Regions from separate parts of the Homo sapiens genome. Here region 2 is linked to region 1. The links come from fine-mapping of genetic effects on gene expression. A gene starts in region 1. The other region holds a variant in brackets. All regions are shown on one strand. Distances are from middle to middle. Region 1 holds the start of PLAUR (plasminogen activator, urokinase receptor). Region 2 overlaps PLAUR (plasminogen activator, urokinase receptor).

What was found. PIP is the estimated chance that this variant, and not a neighbour inherited with it, causes the effect.
Region 2: its variant is fine-mapped to the expression of PLAUR in whole blood (TOPMed, PIP 0.93).

Annotation. Positions count from the first base shown.
Region 1 is chr19:43,667,197-43,672,563 of GRCh38, forward strand. It overlaps PLAUR (plasminogen activator, urokinase receptor), which reads right to left and starts at 2,973. Exons shown (of 7, transcript NM_002659.4): 1 at 2,870-2,973; 2 at 385-495. The coding sequence starts at 2,924. It overlaps LOC124904724 (a long non-coding RNA gene), which reads left to right and starts at 1,568. Exons shown (of 3, transcript XR_007067264.1): 1 at 1,568-1,987; 2 at 2,830-3,284. RefSeq lists silencers at 1,472-1,701, 1,742-1,821 and an enhancer at 2,742-3,041.
Region 2 is chr19:43,645,758-43,651,124 of GRCh38, forward strand. PLAUR (plasminogen activator, urokinase receptor) reads right to left here. Exons shown (of 7, transcript NM_002659.4): 7 at 2,822-3,386. The coding sequence ends at 3,133. Among named protein-coding and RNA genes, the nearest start is that of CADM4, 8.6 kb to the left of the region's middle. The variant G/T (reference allele first, on the strand shown) is at 3,298.

The DNA.
Region 1 (5,367 bases):
CATGTCACAAACATTGCTGCTAAGAACATTCGTATACATGTGTCCCTGGGTATATGTGGCCAAGGTTCTTTGGCATTTCTGCATGGCGAGGAGTTGAGCTGTAGCATATGTTAATCTTCATCTGGACTAGATATTGCCGAATCGCTCTAAGTGGTTGATGTGCCAATTTACTCCCCCACCACAGACACGGTCTGCAACTCCACATCCTTACTAACCCGGGTATTGTCAGATTTTTAAATGCTTGCCAATCTGGTGGGTGTGAAATGGGCTCTCCTTGTTTGTTTGTTTTTAGTTTGCATGTCCCAGTTACTGGTGAGGAAGGTTTCTCAATCACTCGCGTTCCATGCTGCGCTGGAGGGGTGTGTGGGTTGGGGGGAAGCTCACCTTCCCACAAGCGCACGATCGTGGTCCTGCAGAGGTCCTGTCCCAGGGCGCACTCTTCCACACGGCAATCCCCGTTGGTCTTACACTGCATGCACCGCAGGCCCCAAGAGGCTGGGGGAAGGAGGGAGAGGAGAGGAGAGGTTAACTACGCTTAGCTCCAAGACCCCCGCTCACCCCTGCATGTCCCAATACCAACACCAAGTCTCCAGGCCCCGTCCATTCAGATTCGTGTCCATGTTCTGCTGGGTTCCGGCCGGCGGTACTTCCAGTCTGTCCGTTGTCCACGTTCTACCTCCACCCCACTAACTGAACGTTCTATCCCTGCCCACAAGTCCTTTCCCAAAGTCCTGCCTTGGCCCGTTTTTCCTTTCATTCTGTCCTCGTGAGGCGTATATCCTGACAGTCGTATCCCCGCCCTCTCTATCAGTACGTTCTATTCCTGCTCCTATTAGGTCTTTCTCACCGCACCGGCCCTCGGTCGATTACGCCTCTCCAGTTCTGCTGGGGACGTTCTAGCCTTGCCCCACCCGCGTCGATCTTTATGTTATACCGTCACTCCCAGTGCCCTAATGGAACTATCCCTCCACTCACTCCCCCTGGTTCTACCCGGCTCCAGAGCCTCTCCCGGCCCACTAATTTATTCCCAAATTCTAGGCCCGGCCCCATCAGCCCTCCGGAGTTTCTATTGTTAGATACTCTAGTTTCCCGCGAAGTTCTGTCTCCGCCCTCCAGCTCTCCAACTAGGTTTTGGCCCCGCTCCAGACTCATCGTCGAGGTTCTAGCCCCGCCCTTTAGCTCTTCCTGACCTTATCTTCCCGCCCCCTAGCTCCTCCCCGATGCCATAACCCCGCCCCTAGCTCCTCCTCGAGGCTTTAGTCCCTCCCTCTAGCTCCTCCTTGAGATTCTAACTTCGCCCTTTAGCTCTCCCCGCCCCTAGTTTTCCCCTGAGGTCATAACTCCGCCCCAGTCCCTTCTTGAGGTTTCAGCCCCACCCTGTAGCTCCTCCCCGAGGTCGTAACCCCCGCCCCTTGGCCCCTTGAGGTCCTAGCCCAGCCCCGTAGCTCCTCCCCAAGCTTATAACCCCGCCCCTAGCCCCTCCTTGAGGTTCCAGCCCCGCCCTCTAGCTCCTCCCCGAGGTTATAATCCTGCCCCTCAAGAGTCTAGTCCCACCTTCTAGCTCCTCCCGAGGTTATAACTCCGCCCTCTGGTTACGCCTCGAGGTTATAACCCCGCCCTCTGGCTCCGCCTCGAGGTTCTAGCCCCGCTCCTAGCTCTTCCTCGGTCTGTAACCTCTCCCGTAGCTCTTCCTTGAGGTTCCAGCCCCGCCCTCTGGCTCCTCCCCGACACTCTCTCCCCGCCCCAGGCTCCGCCCCGAGATTGCAGCCCAGTCCCTAGGCCCGGTCCCCGACCTCCGGGCCTTCCCGGACATCCCTTTCCAGCTGCGCGTTCGGAGTATCCCGGAGCTGTTACTCATTCCCGGCCTCCCGCGGTCTCGAGCGCTTTCCGGGTTATTCATCGCGGCCCCAACACCCTGTGGCCACCCGCCCTGACTCAGTTCCTTCTCGAATTCCTCGACCCAGAGCCCCCCACATTTTCCGGGGAAGTAAGTGAGAGTCGCCTCAGTGAGAGGGAAAGGTCCTGAGGGACAGTCCCGGGTCTCCAGCACTGGCTCTGCGCCGCTCAGTCAGCCTCCCTTTGGGCCTTTTGTAAAAGGGGGTCCTGTCCCCCCGTTTCTCAGAGGGGGAGACCCAGCAGCGTGGAGAGCGCTGGGGGGCGCTGCAGGGTCAGATCCTGCGTATTCAAGCACTGGCTGTGTGATTTTAGGCCAGTTATCTAACCTCTCTGTGCCCTAGTTTCCTCTGCGAAACGAAATTAATAAAGTCCCATCGCCTAGTTTGAAATTGCAAGGAAGAGGCTTCGAAGAACTCCATTTAAAAAAAGAACACTTGGGCCGGGCGCGGTGGCTCACGCCTGTAATCCCAGCAGTTTGGGAGGCCGAGGCAGGTGGATCATCTGAGGTCAGGAGATTGAGACCATCCTGGCTAACAGAGTGAAACCCGGTCTCCACTAAAAATACAGAAATTAGCCGGGCGCGATGGCAGGCGCCTGTAATCCCAGCTACCCAGGAGGCTGAGGCAGGAGAATCGCTTGAACCCGGGCGGCAGAGGTTGCAGTGAGCCGAGATCGCGCCACTGCACTCCAGCCTGGGCGACAGAGTGAGACTCTGTCAAAAAAAAAAAAAAAAAAAAAAAAGCACTCACTAAATTATGTAAAGCTAAATGCCTTTGCTCCACTAATATTTCCTTAGCTACTGAGTGCCAGGTACTGCGCCGCGTGGCGTTGCACAAAGCACGAGAATTACTATTATTTGATTAGGGAGGATGCTGAGGACTGAACCGCATTCCTCCAACTCATCCTCTGACAACCCCCAACCCCCTCAATTAGACCCTGTTCCAGGCGCAGGCGTTCGGGACCCAGCCCCTACCTGGGACGCAGGTGTGGAGCAGCAGCAGCAGCGGCAGCAGCGGCGGGTGACCCATGTCGCGAGGGCAGCTCCTGTGCGCGGGGTCCCTGCACGTCTTCTCTCCTTCTGGCCTCAGGAAGGAGGCAGTTTTGTGGCCCCAGGGACTCCTCCCAGACGTTTTGCGAAAGAGCGAGTCAGCCCCAGATGCGTGGGCGCCTCCCCCTCCTCCCGTACGAACCTCCTCCGCCACAAACTTCCCTTCCCGGGGCGCGGCCGGCTGGTGGTGAAGGGGCTGGCTCGGCCCTGACTCATGGAGTTGTGATCACAGCTCTGTCCCCAGATTGCCTGGGTGCAAATCCCAGTTCTCTCTCTTCCTAACGTGGGACCCGGGGCAATCGCTCTCCACTGCTGTAAAATGAGGATAAAAACTTTGACGGTAAATATGAATGTGGCTGATTATTTGGCTAACAGGATTTTTGTTAGTTTTGTCAGGAGGGATACTGGTATTTTGGAAAATGTCCTTATCTAGAGATGCATCCTGAAATATGCATCTCTTAAACACTTAAAACACTTAACCCTTGCTTTGCTTCCCGCTGTGCCCCCAGCTCCTGGACCAGTGCCCAGCACGAAGTAGGTCCTTGGTAAATGTTAAAGGAATGTGTTGAGCCCTCCATTTTGGCCAGCAGCTATTCCAGGCATTGCACCTACATTAAAACACTTAATGGTGAAACCCCGTCTCTACTAAAAATACAAAAATTAGCCGGGCGTAGTGGCGTGTGTGTGTTACTTAGGAGGCTGAGGCAGGAGAATCGCTTGAACCCGGGAGGCGGAGGTTGGGTTGCAGTGAGCCGAGATCGTGCCACTGCACTCCAGCCTGGCAACAGAACAAGACTCCTTCTCACAGAAAAAAAAAAAAAAAAAAAAAAAGACACTTCAGCCAAAAAAGTAGATATCACTGTTACGACAATGGCTGTATGCTTAGGTGGGATTCTGGTTTTTGTTTGTTTGTTTGTTTTTGCAGATGCTTACTAGAGTATTTAGTGGTGAATGTTATTGATGTCTGCATTTTTTGTTGTTGTTGTTTTGGGGATTTTTGTTTTGTTTTTTCTTTTTCTTTTGTTTTCATTTTGATGTCTGTATTTATTTTATAATATTTTAGAAGAGGTCAGATGAGGTGGCTCATGCCTGTAACACCAATGCTTTGGGAAGCCAAGGCAGGAGGATCACTTGGGGCCAGGAGTTCAAGATCAGCTTGGGAAACATAAAGAGCCCTCATCTTTCCAAAAGAAATTAAAAATAAAATAAAATTAGCTGGGTGCAGTGGCCCGTACTTGTAGTCCTAGGTAGTTGGGAGGCTAAGGTGGGAGGACCGCTTGAACCTGGGAACTGGAAGCTGCAGTGAGCTATGATTGCACCACTGCACTCCAACCTGGGCAACAGAGCGAGACCCTGTCTCAAAAAAATAATAAATAAATAAATACTTGAGTAGAAAATAAAGGCAAAATAGCCAAATGGTTGTATCAATTATATAAAGGTAATCAGTATATAAGGGCATATTATGCCATTCTGTCTCCTTTTCTGTGGGTTTGAAAAGGCTTATAATAAGTTTTTTCTTTCTTTTTATTATTTATTTATTTATTTATTGAGACGAAGTCTCACTCTGTCACCCAGGCTAGAGTGCAGTGGTGCAATCTCGGCCACTGCAATCTCCGCCTCCTGGGTTCATGCAATTCTCCTGCCTCAGCCTCCTGAGTAACTGGGATTACAGGGGCACGCCAGCACACCCGGCTAATTTTTGTATTTTTAGTAGAGATGGGGTTTCACCATGTTGGTCAGGGTGGTCTCGAACTCCTGACCTCAGGTGATCCACCTGCCTTGTCCTTCCAAAGTGCTGGGATTACAGGCATGAGCCACTGCACCTGGCCAAGTTTTTTTTTTTTTTAAGTAAAATAAAATACTAAAGATAAAATTGTCTCCCCGTCTTAGGATGCATCTAACTAAACAGAGCAATTTAATGTAGGTGCAATGCCTGGAATAGCTGCTGGCCGAAATGGAGGGCTCAACACATTCCTTTAACATCTACCAAGGACCTACTTTGTGCTGGGCACTGGTCCAGGAGCTAGGGGCACAGCAGGACGCAAAGCAAAGTTCCCACCTTTTGTTGTGTTGACAGTGGGGAGCAGATATGTGTTATCTAATCTTTCACTGTCTGAGAGGGATAAGCAAACTGGAGAAAACAAAGCAGGCTGAAGGAAGTATCTGGGTGCAAATGAGGTGTGAGCTGTTTTAGGTGGGTGATCCAGGAGGGGTTCCCTGAGCAAGTGGCATTCAAGCAGAGGCTGAATGCAGTGAGGGAAGAAGTAGGGCAGATGGGCAGGGAACCTTTCCAAGGAGCAGGAACAACCAGTGCAAAGGCCTTGAGGTGGAAGCCTGATGAGATTCTAGGAACAGAAGAGATGTCAGTGTGGCTGGAACAGATTAGGAGAGGAAGAGAGTCGTAGGGGATGAGTAAGTGGTAG
Region 2 (5,367 bases), 21 kb before region 1:
AGCCTCCCGAATTGCTGGGATTACAGGCATGAGCCACCAAACCCGGCCAAGTTTCTGTGGTTTTAAGCCACCTTGCTTGTAAGATTTGTGTGTGTGTGTTTTTAATTTTTTATTTTTAAGTATTATGAATACATAATAGTGGTGTATATTTACAGGACATATGTAATATGGTTTTGGGTTTTAGTGTTTTTTTTTTGGAGACAGAGTCTGGCTCTGTTGCCCAGGCTGGAGTACAGTGGTGGGATCATGGCTCACTGCAGCCTTGACCTCCCGGGCTCAAGGGATCCTCCTGCCTCAGCCTCCCATGTAACTAGGACCACAGGCATGCCCCACCACATCCAGCCAATTTTTTTTTATTTTTAGTGGAGATGAGGTCTCACTGTGTTGCCCAGGCTGATCTTGAACTCCTGAGCTCAAGAGATCTTCCTTTCTCACCCTCCCAAAGTGCTAGGACTACAGGCATGAGCCACTGTGCCTGTCCTTCCATGATGTTTTGATATAGGCACACAATGTGTTAGTTTATAAAGTTTGTAATAATTTATCACAGGCAGCCCTAGGAAACTAATATAGCCAAGTTTCCTGTTTCTTCTCTATATCACATCTGCTGGGGCTACATGTCCAAGGTGGCTTCTTCACCCACTTGTCTGGTGCCTGGGCTGAGATGGCTGAAACATCTGGGGCTCTATCTCCACATGGCATTTATACATGAGTAGCTTGGGCTTCCTCACAGCATGGTGGTCTCAGGGCAGTAGTACTTTTACATGGCAACCAGCTTCCCCAGAGTGAGCGTTCTAAGATTCAGAAAGTGAAAAATGAAAGTTTCTTAAAACTTGGTTCCAGAACATAGCACAGCAAAACTTCCACCACATTCTACTGGTCAAAGCAGTCACAGAGTCACTCATATTCAAGAGGCAGAAGTACAGACCTCACTTCTTTAAGCCACTACAGTGACAGGTGGTGATATGTCATTAGAGAAAGCCCTAAACAAGAACCTTGTCCCTCACCTGCCCCCAAATACCATGGAAGATGTCTTTTTTTTTTTTTTTTTTTTTTTGGGGATAGTCTCACTGTGTCATGCAGTGGTGTGATCTTGGCTCACTACAACCTCCTCCTCCTGGGTTCAAGCGATTCTCCTGCCTCAGCCTTCCGAGTAGCTGGAGTTACAGGCACCCACCACCTTACCCGGTTAATTTTTGTAATTTTAGTAGAGACGGGGTTTTGCCAAATTGGCCAGGCTGGTCTCAAACTCCTGCCTCAAGTGATCTGCCCACCTCGGCCTCCCAAAGTGCTGGGATTACAGGCGTGAACCACCACAGCCAGCCGAAGATATCTTATTTTTTCTTCATTAGCCACAAGATTTGATGGGGAATGTAATTTTTGTCTCCATGGGTTGCCTTAGCAAATGATGAGAAGAACATGAATTTTTCAATATTGTGCTCCTAGAGTGCCATTGAAATGGTAGTTCTGTCTCTTTTTCTGACAGTCCTGAGGCATCCCGGGAAATAGAGCCCAGCCTTTATCCCCGGTCCCCAGCACATCAGGGGAAGTGCACTCCTGTCCTTATTCCTCACTGCAGTGCATGCAGGGAGTTCTGGCCATCAGGTTATCTTCTATCCGTCTCCTTTCCCAAAGCATGCTGGGAAATGTGGGGATGTCTCCTTAGAACAACAAAATAGTTGCAACCTTTGAAGTTTAGGAGAAGACTAGAAGGTTAGTGTTCAGTGTGTGATCTGGAAGCTTGCATTTGTAAGAATTAAAGAAAGAGGAGGCCAGGCACGGTGGCTCATGCCTGTAATCCTAGCACTTTGGGAGGCCAAGGTGGGCAGATCACCTGAGGTTGGGAGTTTGAGACCAGCCTGAACAACATGGAGAAACCCTGTCTCTACTAAAAATACAAAATTAGCCGGGTGTGGTGGTGCATGCCTGTAATCCCAGCTACTTGGGAGGCTGAGGCAGGAGAATCCCTTGAACTAGGAGGTGGAGGTTGTGGTGAGCTGAGATTGTGTCATTGCACTCCAGCCTGGGCAACAAGAGTGAAACTCCATCTCAAAAAAAGAAAAGAAAAGAAAAGAAAAAGGAAAAGGAAAGAAACATGAAATGTGGCTTGACGGTGAAGGACAGGTTTATTTTAGAGAAAACCAACCTGAGGGGGGCTTTTGGCTGAGTTAGGTTAGAGAGCCCTTTTTTTTTTTTTTTTTTACAGACTAAGGATATTTAAGAGTTTTGGAAGGGGGTGCTTATCTAGGTTCGGAATGTTTTCATGTGAGGAAAAGTTTATTGTGGGGTTGGAAAGTCTCTGGTCGGAAGGGAGGCTATCTGGGGGTTGGCATGTTTCTGGTCAGAGAGGGGTTTATCTTAGGGTTGGAATGTTTCTGGTTATGCTGATGGTAGCCATTAGGCTGATGTTTTGGGGCTGGATTTAGCTGATTTTTTTTTGAGACAGAGTCTTGCTCTGTCACCCAGGCTGGAGTGCAGTGGTGCAATCTCGGCTCACTGCAAGCTCCACCTCCCGGATTGACGCCATTCTCCTGCCTCAGCCTCCCGAATAGCTGGGACTACAGGCACCCGCCACCACGTCCGGATTTAGCCGATTTTTAATCAAGAGGAACTAAGAATGGTGGTGTTTGTTCAAGATGGCAGTGCTCCTGCTCTGTCAGCATTTGGAGTCCAGAAATAGATGTGGAGGCAGCCCCCAGGAGGACTTCCAACCTAGGCAGGGGCCTCAAACATGACCCCTGATTCCAGGAGCCTGTGAAAAGGTGTCCCCCACCATTTATCCTCCCAAAGATAGACACTACAAAGAAGGGCATACCTGGCCTTGTCCACTGGTACAAAATCTTTATGTAAGTATAAAATAAATAATATGAATATTAATTAATAACAACAACACAACAGCGGCAACAATATTAATAATAACAAGAGCTCTCCCATTGGCCCACGGCCTTCCTCCAGCTTTTCTCTTCTGCTTCACACAACTTTGTGAGATAGCTGTTTTCATAGCTGGGAAAACTGAGGCCCAGAGAGGTCGGCACACTGGCCTGAGGTCACACAGCAAGTCTGTAGGGCTGGGAGCCGAGGGAAGGGCAAAGGGGTCCCCCGGATCCAGCCAGGGCAGAGAGGGGGATTTCAGGTTTAGGTCCAGAGGAGAGTGCCTCCCCACAGTCTGGCAGTCATTAGCAGGGTGATGGTGAGGCTGAGATGGGCAGGGCCAGGCTGAGGAGCAGCCCCACTGCGGTACTGGACATCCAGGTCTGGGTGGTTACAGCCACTTTTAGTACAGCAGGAGACATCAATGTG[G/T]TTCATGCTGAAGGCGTCACCCAGGTGGGCATGTTGGCACATTGAGGCGGTTGCACAGCCTCTTACCATATAGCTTTGGTTTTTCGGTTCTGAGGAAAGAGAAGACGGAGTGAGACTTCCAGCTCCTGGGCCCAGGACTGGAATTCTCCAGTAGGTGACCTGCCACCTTGCAGTGGGTGCCACCTTCACTACCACCTAGAGAAAGCAGCAGTTCTCAGGGCCAGGTGTGGTGGCTCATGCCTGTAATCTCAACACCTTGGGAAGCCAAGGAGAGAGGATAGCTTGAGCCCAGGAGTTCCAGACCAGCCTGGACAACATAGCAAAACTCTGTTTCTACAAACATAAAAAAGAAAAAAACAGCTGTAGTCCCAGCTACTTGGGAGGCTGAGATGAGAGGATCACTTGAGCTCAGGAGATGGAGGCTGTGGTGAGTTATGATCACGCCACTGCACTCCAGCCTGGGTAACAGAGTGAGACCCTGTTTCAAAAAACAAATAAAAAGAAAGAAAGGAAGGAAGGGAGGGAGGGAGGGAGGGAAGAAGGAAGGGAGGAAGGGAAGAAGGGAAAGAAAAGAAAGAAAGAGAGAGAGAGGGAGGAAGGAAGGAAGGAGAAGGGAAAGAAGGAAGGAAGGGAGGAAGGAAGGAAGAAAGAAAGAAAGAAAGGGAAAGAGAGACAGAGAAAGAAAAGGAAAGAAAAAAAAAGAAAGAAAGGAAGCGAGCAGCGGTTCTTAAAGTGTGGCTCAGGGACCCCAGAGACCCTTTCAGGAGATCTGTGATTTCACATGGCTTTTTCACTCTCATAAGTGTACAATGGGCTTTTCCAAAAACTCCAGGACATGTGATATTGCAAGAGACTGAAAGCAGAAGCTTCCATGAGGACCCAGCTGTCTTCTATTAAGCTGGACATTAAAGAGATGTGCAACACAGCAAAATAATGCCAGTTTTCTCATTACGCTTTTTTTTTGTTTTTTTTTTTGAGATGGAGTCTCACTCTGTCACCCAGGCTGGAGTGCAGTGGCACGATCTCGGCTCACTGCAACCTCTGCCTCCCGGGTTCAAGCAATTCTTCTGCCTCAGCCTCCCAAGTAGCTGGGACTACAGGCGCGACCACCATGCCCAGCTAATTTTTGTATTTCTAGTAGAGACGGGGTTTCACCATATTGGCCAGGCTGGTCTCGAACTCCTGACCTTGTGATCTGCCCGCCTTGGCCTCCCAAAGTGCTGGTATTACAGGCGTGAGCCACCGCGCCTGGCTGGTTTTTTTTTTGTTGTTTCTTTGTTTGTTTTTTTAAGACAGGGTCTCGCTCTGTTGCCCAGGCCGCAGTGCAGTGGTGCAATCTCCGTTCACTGCAACCTCCACCTCCCAGGCTCAAGTGACCCTCCCACCTCAGCCTCCCAAGCAGCTGGGACTACAGGCATGCACCACCATGCCCAGCTAACTTTTGTATTTTCTGTAGAGACAGGATCTTGCTATGTTGCCCAGGCTGGTCTCAAATCCCTAGGCTTAAGTGACCCGCCCACCTTGGCCTCCCAAAGTATTGGGATTATAGGCATGAGCCACCATGCCTGGCTATCATTACATTTTTTCTTTGGAAACTATACTTATTTTTCATTAAAATGTTATTTATCTTAATGTGTAATGAGTTTTTATTGTTATAAGATGAATTCATAAATAAATCTTTAAAGATTTCTCAGTTTTGGCTGGGCACGGTGGCTCACATCTGTAATCCCAGCACTTTGGGAGGCCGAGGCAGGCAGATCATGAGGTCAGGAGATCGAGACCATCCTGGCCAACATGGTGAAACCCCGTCTCTACTAAAATTACAAAAATAAGCTGGGCATGGTGGCTCATGCCTGTAATCCCAGCTATGCAGGAAGCTGAGGCAGGAGGATTGCTTGAACCCAGGAGGGGGAGGTTGCAGTGAGCTGAGACCATGCCACTGCACTCTAGCCTGGCGACAGAGCAAGACTCCATTTCAAAAAAAAAAAAAAAAGATTTCTCAGTTTTAATTTTAATTTAATTTTATTTTATTTTATTTTTTGGGACGGAGTTTCACTCTTGTTGCCCAGG